Linked DNA regions of Homo sapiens. The protein of the gene in region 2 interacts with the protein of the main gene of each other region in a biochemical or structural test. Each region holds a gene or a part of one and is shown on either strand. Other genes may lie near its edges.

Evidence for each region. The genes of interacting proteins can lie anywhere in the genome.
Region 1: the proteins of SP1 (region 2) and E2F1 form a complex in vitro, tested with the Homo sapiens proteins (4 studies listed by BioGRID and IntAct).

What each region holds. Positions count from the first base shown.
Region 1 is NC_000020.11:33,679,679-33,683,424, forward strand, and holds part of E2F1 (transcription factor E2F1), read right to left. Parts: intron 739-3,746; coding exon 648-738; intron 297-647; coding exon 77-296; intron 1-76. UniProt on the Homo sapiens protein: Transcription activator that binds DNA cooperatively with DP proteins through the E2 recognition site, 5'-TTTC[CG]CGC-3' found in the promoter region of a number of genes whose products are involved in cell cycle regulation or in DNA replication.
Region 2 is NC_000012.12:53,404,172-53,407,917, reverse strand, and holds part of SP1 (transcription factor Sp1), read right to left. Parts: intron 1,334-3,746; coding exon 1,165-1,333; intron 1-1,164. UniProt on the Homo sapiens protein: Transcription factor that can activate or repress transcription in response to physiological and pathological stimuli.

The DNA of each region.
Region 1 (3,746 bases), on a different chromosome or scaffold from region 2:
ACAGTGGGTATTACTACCAGCTCCTCCAGGCTGGCATGGGCAGGTGTGCCTGCCCTCCTGTGTGGCCGGTACCTACAGCCACTGGATGTGGTTCTTGGACTTCTTGGCAATGAGCTGGATGCCCTCAAGGACGTTGGTGATGTCATAGATGCGCCGCTTCTGCACCTTCAGCACCTCGGCAGCCCAGTTCAGGTCGACGACACCGTCAGCCGAGTGGCTCAGCAGCTCCAGGAAGCGCTTGGTGGTCAGATTCAGTGAGGTCTCATAGCGTGACTTCTCCCCCGGGGATTTCACACCTGTGGGGGTGTGGTCAGGCAAGACAGGGCCCTTCAGCATCCACCCCCACCTCCAGCCAGGCCTGCCACTCTGGCAGTGCAGGGCAGCAGGATGATGGGGGCTGGGGGACAGCCAGCTCCTTCCCCTTGGCGAGGCCAACCACAGCATTCTTCTTCTGGCTGGGGAACTCCTCACCCCTCAGGGCCTGGAGAAACCAAGCCAGGTGGCCACTCCAACTGCCCATCAGGGTCCTCAGAGGCCTGGCTCAAGCCCGACAAGCCAGACGTTAGCTTGCAAGCATGTTTGTCTGTTCACATCCCTAACCTGGGCCTGGTCACAGGGGGTCTGCCCAGCCCAAGCTCCATAGGTACCTTTTCCTGGATGGCGGCCTCTGCCCCGAGCTGGCCCACTGCTCTCGGCCAGGTACTGATGGTCAGTTTCCAGGTCCAGCCTCCGCTTCACCTGTGGCGAAAACGGGAGGATGCCCAGTAACCAGGAGTGAGGCCAGAAGAGACCTGGCTTAAGGCTGGGTGCCTCTGGGCTACCCTCGCCTCAGTTTCTCTAGCAGGATGCCTGAGTGTGTGACTGAGGGAGATCAGAGGGGACATAGCCTGAGAGTCACAGTCCTACCACACAGGACATTCCATTTTCACCACTTCTCTGGGGTCTAGCGGTGGATTTAAAACACATCCGCAAACTTTCTGATCCTTCTCCTTCAAAAGATATAGCCTAATTCTCCCCTTATGAGCCAGACCTGGTAACTTGCTTCTGGGGATGAATGAATGGAATGTGGTGGAAGGGATGGCCTGTCACTTTTGAGACTGGGTCAGAGGCGCTGGAGCTTCCTCCTTGCTCTGTATTGGGTCACTTACTCTGCCATATCATATGGGCACTCAAGTAGCCCTAATGATGGGCAAGAAACCATGGCCTCCTCCCAACAGCAACACTTAGTCACAACTTCTGTTAGCAGCCAGAACCCAAACACTGGCTGAATCTCCAGAGACCCCAAGCCAGAGCTGGATAAGTCTTCCCTGAATTCCTGACCCACAAAAACTATATAATAAATGTTTGTTGTTTTAAGGCACTATTTTTTTTTCTTTTTTAGACAGGGTATCGCTCTGTTGACTATGCTGGAGTGCAGTGGTATGATCACAACTCTCTGCAGCCTAGACTTCCTGGGCTCAAGCAATCCTCCCACCTCAGCCTTCCAAACAGCTGGGACCACAGGCGCATCCCTCCAAGACCAGCTAACTTTTCTATTTCTCGTAGAGATGGGGTCTCCCTATGTTGCCCAGACTGGTCTCAAACTCCTAGGCTCAAGCAATTCTCCCATCTCAGCCTTCACTGTAGTCGTGCTGGGACTAGTCAGCCACCATGCCCAGCTAAGCCACTGATTACATAGGTCCCTTGGCTAAATCACCTTCTCTCTGGTTTTTGACTAATCTATACGCATGGTAGCAGCTGGTGCTCATCAAGTTCCTTGCATCCATTAGTTCATTCCATTCAACGGACTGGCTGTATAAAAATGGCCCCATTTTCCAGATAAGGCAACTAAAGCCCAGGGAGGCCCAGGAAGTGGTAGAGTCAGGATTTGTACCCAAGACGGTCTGAGGAAGAACCCAAGCTCTAAGCACTCTGGCTTAGTTCAGACACTCCAGGATTGGGACTGTCCTGGAGGTCTCACAGGCTGCTCAAAAGTACCCGGACCAAAACCAGACTGATCTTCCCCTCCACCATCCACAGGGTTTCCTGAGCTAGAGTTCCTGACCTGTCACCCTCCTCACATGCAGCTACCAAGAACTGCTCATCACCACGGCGATCACCACCTTCCCAGTGGGCTGCTGAGCAGACTCCACACTGGTCTCCCTGCCTCTGCTGCAGCCAGTCCTCCTACAAACCTTACCATGCCGCCGCCCCTGCTTAAGGCCTTCCTCCAGCTCCCCATTGCCTTTGTACTCTCATCTGCCACTGCTTCTCTAGAGGAACCCGAGTCACGTTTTCCCAGAAATCTAGACTGCCCTTGCATCCCTCCCACCCTCCCCACTTCACGCCTGCTCCCTCTACCTCTGTGGGCAGAAACCTTACGCATCAGCTAGGAGGTGTCACCTCTTCTCCCTCTGAACTGCCTCAAACCCAACCTTTTGCCACATTCTGTCTCTCCCTACACATTTCTGCAGATGTATCTATCTCACCCTCAGAGGTGTCTGAATCACTTGAGAATCTATAGTGTCTGCCATGGAGCCTGGCATCAACAAATGTTTGCTGAATGAACCCCCCCCATGCTGATGAACCACTCCCTCTTGTGCACATTCACTGACTTTTGAAGGCACCCAGGGGAAAGAAGAGCTGTTGTGCTCTAAGCACTGTGTACTCAACTGCTTCCCCTGCAACCCTCCGGCCACCTTTTGGCAGGTGCTATGATGGCCTCCACCTGAGAGAGGCCACACAGTGAGAGGTGGACCCAGGACTTGCACCCTAGTTGGCTGGTACAGAGCCCACACTCATACCCGCCACGTGCCCCACCTCCCCAGAACCCAGCCAGAATGTATCCCCCTCCATACTCGCCCCTGGGGCCCAAACCCTAGCATGCTTCTGCCATCTGCACCCCTTGCCTTCTCCCTGGGATCCCCACCCTTGTCCACCCCTGAAGGCAGGTCAGTGCCACGCCCTAAAACAAAGGCTTGAGTGGATGCCATTTCTGCCACTTCTCCCTAGATAAACACTGGCAGAGGGGCCCCGAAACGCAGGGGTGAAGACATTCACTGCTGAAAAAATCTGGATGACTCGAACACCCATCCATGAAGGGGGTCACGAAAGCTGTGCTTTGTTTAGCCCCTTGAACACCACGCAGCTGTCAAGGACCGAGGCAGGTTGACAAGAATCCCCTCACACATACAGACAAGCAAAACACTGTCACAGGGCGATATATTTATATGATCCCTTTTGGATTAAAAAGCTCATGAAACTTTTCTCTGGTTCAGTTTATATTATTATAGAATACATTTCGGGGCAGCCTCTGGAAGGACTGTGGGAGACCAGTGCCATATCTGAATGGTGTGAATGATACAGGAAAAACTACAATTTTTAAAACTTTAAAAAACAAAAACTGTCACAACCACCACAAACAAAAATAGCCTTAGGGAAAAAAAGGAAAAAAATGAATAGGGCTGGGATCCTGCCGTCAACTTTCTAGTTTCTTAAGAGTTAAGTTTTTGGCCAGGCGCAGTGGCTCACGCCTGTAATCCTGGCACTTTGGGAGGCCGAGGCGGGCAGATCACTTGAGGTCAGGAGTTCAAGACCAGCCTGACCAATATGGTGAAACCTCATCTCTACCAAAAATACAAAAATTAGCCGGGTATGGTGGTGCACGTCTGTAGTCCCAGCTACTCGGGAGGCTGAGGCAGAAGAATCGCTTGAACCCAGGAGGTAGAGGTTGCGGTGAGCCGAGATGGCGCCACTGTACTCCAACC
Region 2 (3,746 bases):
ATGCCTGTAATCCCAGCACTTTGGGAGGCCAAGGCAGGCGGATCACAAGGTCAGGAGATCGAGACCACCCTGGCTAACACGGTGAAACCCCGTCTCTACTAAAAATACAAAAAATTAGCTGGGCGAGGTGGCGGGCACCTGTAGTCCCAGCTACTAGGGAGGCTGAGGCAGGAGAATGGCGTGAACCCAGGGGGCGGAGCCTGCAGTGAGCCAAGATTGTGCCACTGCACTCCAGCCTGGGCAACAGAGCAAGACTCCATCTCAAAACAAAAAAATAAATAAATAAATTTTTTTGGCCAGGTGCAGTGGCTCACGTCTGTAATCCCAGCACTTTGGGAGGCCGAGGTGGGCAGATCACACAGTCAGGAGATGAAGACCATCCTGGCTAACAAGGTGAAACCCTGTCTCTATTAAAAATAGAAAAACTTAGCCGGGCGTGGTGGCACACGCCTGTAGTCCCAGCTACTCGGGAGACTGAGGCAGAATTGCTTGAACCCAGGAGGTGGAGGTTGCAGTGAGCCAAGAATGTGCCACTGCACTCCAGCCTGGGAAACACAGACTGACTTTGTCTCAGAAAAAAAAAAAATTTTTTTTTTTTTCATTTTCTCTTTTTATGGCCAGTAAAATATTCCCACATAATTTTTAAATTTTTGTAGAGATCGGCTCTCGCTTTCTTGCTGAGGCTGGTCTCAAACTCCTGGGCTGAAGTGATCCTCCTATCTTGGCCTCCCAAAGTGCTGGGATTATATGCATCCAGCTCTGAGTCTTAAATCCTAAAAAAAAAAATTAACCTTTGCCGGGCATGGTGGCTCACGCTGGTAATCCCAGCACTTTAGGAGGCCGAGGCGGGCAGATCACGAGGTCAGGAGATCGAGACCATCCTGGGTAACACAGTGAAACCCTGTCTCTACTAAAAATAAAAAAAGATAGCTGGGTGTGGTGACAGGTGCCTGTAGTCCCAGCTACTCGGGAGGCTGAGGCAGGAGAATGGCGTGAACCCAGGAGGTGGAGTTTGCAGTGAGCCAAGATTGCGCCACTGCACTCCAGCCTGGGCAACAGAGTCAGACTCGGTCTCAAAAAAAAAAAAAATTAATCTTCTTCCTCTTATCTCCAAATCTATTAATTTTTCTTTATATTTGTAAGAAACTGGCTGGGTCAACTCACCTTCCTTCACTGTCTTTACAGTAGGGGCAGGTGCATGCTTCCCGCCGGGTCCTCCGACCGGCTTGGGGTTGGGCATCTGGGCTGTTTTCTCCTTCCTCTCCACCTGCTGTGTCATCATGTATTCCATCACCACCAGCCCCATGGAGACCAAGCTGAGCTCCATGATCACCTGAAATTAAGAGAGAAAAGGGTCAACATGTGACATGGGCAGGTTATCACTGGCATCTCAGTGATACCCTACAGTCACAACATCATTTCTTTTGAACTGACATCCTACATTCACAGTATCACAAGTTTTGAAGCCTTTTTATGTTTAGCCATTCCATTCACTGACACCTGAAGACTCACTGAAATCTCAAGAATCATCATTGAAAATACCAAGAGTGGCTGGGCGCAGTGGTTCACGCCTGTAATTCCATCACTTTGGGAGGCCGAGGTGGGCGGATCACCTGAGGTCAGGAGTTCAAGACCAGTCTGACCAATACGGAGAAATCCCGTCTCTACTAAAAATACAAAATTAGCTGGGAATGGTACGCATGCCTGTAATCCCAGCTCCTTGGAAGGCTGAGCCAGGAGAATTGCTTGAACCCGGGAGGCGGAGGTTGCAGTTAGCGAGACTGCACCATTGTACTCCAGCCTGGGTGACAGAGCAAGACTCTGTCTCAAAAAAAAAAAAAAAAAAAAAAAAGAAAGAAAATACCAAGAGCCAATAAATACGTAAAAATCTGATCAAATCTCATAGTTGTTTTTTTTTATTATTATACTTTAAGTTTTACGGTACATGTGCACAACGTGTAGGTTACATATGTATACATGTGCCATACTGATGTGCTGCACCCATTAACTCGTCATTTAGCATTAGGTATATCTCCTAATGCTATCCCTCCCCCGATCATAGTTTTTAAAATGCAACTCCACTTATAACGCATTTGTAATTTTTCACCTATCAGATTACCAAAAGTTGAAACCCTAATAACATACGGCATTGGTAAGGGTACAGGAAAACAGACCCTCCCTCTCTCTCTTCCTTCCCTCCCTCCCTCCTTCCCTCCTTCCTTCTCTCTCTCTCTCTTTTCTTTCCTTTCTTTTTTTGAGACAGAGTCTCGCTGGCTCTGGAGTACAGTGGCATTATCTGGGCTCACTGCAACCTCCATCTCCTGGGTTCAAGTGATTCTCCTGCCTTAGCCTCCCAAGTAGCTGCAACTACAGGTATATGCCACCATGACTGGCTAACTTTTTTGTATTTTTAGGAGAGATGGGGTTTCACCATGTTGGTCAGGCTGTCTCGAACTCCTGACCTTAGGTGATCCACCCGCCTCGGCCTTCGAAAGTGCTGGGATTACGGGTGGGCATGAGCCACCATGTCCAGCCGGAAAGAGACATTTTCATACACAAATAGTGATAAATTAATACAACTTTTTGAAGGCCAGTTTGAAAATATTTAAATGTACATCTAATTTGAACCAGCAATGCCCATATATTTACATGTGGTTCTGCCTGTAACCTCAGCACTTTGGAAGGCTGAGGCAGGAGAACTGCTTGAGATTAGGAGTTCAAGACCAGCCTGGGCAACATAGGGACACTCTGTCTATAAAATAAATAATAGGCTGGGCATGGTAGCTCACGCCTGTAATCCCAGCACTTTGGGAGGCCGAGGTGGTTGGATCACTTGAGGTCAGGAGTTCAATACCAGCCTGGCCAACATGGTAAAACCCCCATCTCTACTAAAAATACAAAAACAAAACAAAAAAAATCAGCTGGGTATGGTGGAGTACGCTTGTAATCCTAGCTATTCGGGAGGCTGAGACAGGAATTGCTTGAACCCAGGAGGCAGAGGTTGCAGTGAGCCGAGACTGTGCCACTGCACTCCAGCCTGGCCGACAGAGCGAGACTTCGTCGCCAAATAATAATAATAATTAGCTGGGCATGGTGGCATGCGCCTATGGTCCCAGCTACTCAGGAGGCTAAGGTGGGAGGAAGATTGCTTGAGCCAAGGTGTTTAAGGCTACAGTGAGCTATGATCACATCACTGCACACCAGCCTGGCCAACAGAACAAGATTCCAACTCAAAAAAATATATATAAATAAACAGTGTATGCTAAAATGCTTTAGACTCTCATCATGACTCAGTTGGTCACATTTGACATTTTCAAACACAGCTCTAGGCCACTGGTAAAAAGTGACAGATAATATTCTTTTTTTTTTTTTTTTGAGACTGAGTTACACTCTTGTTGCCCAGGCTGGAGTGCAATGGCACAATCTTGACTCATTGCAACCTCCGCCTCCTGGGTTCAAGCGATTTTCCTGCCTCAGCCTCCTGAGTAGCTGGGATTACAGGCACCCACCACCACCCCTGGCTACTTTTTGTATTTTGTTGTATTTTTTTAGTAGAGATGGGGTTTCACCATCTTCGACAGGCTGGTCTCGAACTCCTGACCTTGTGATCCGCCCGCCTTGGCCTCCCAAAGTGCTGATTACAGGCGTGAGTCACCGCACCCGGCTGATAATATTCTTCGCAAAAGTAATATCTTATAAAGTGGCAGATAATATTCTTCTCAAGACTTCTTTCCTTTTTTTTTTTT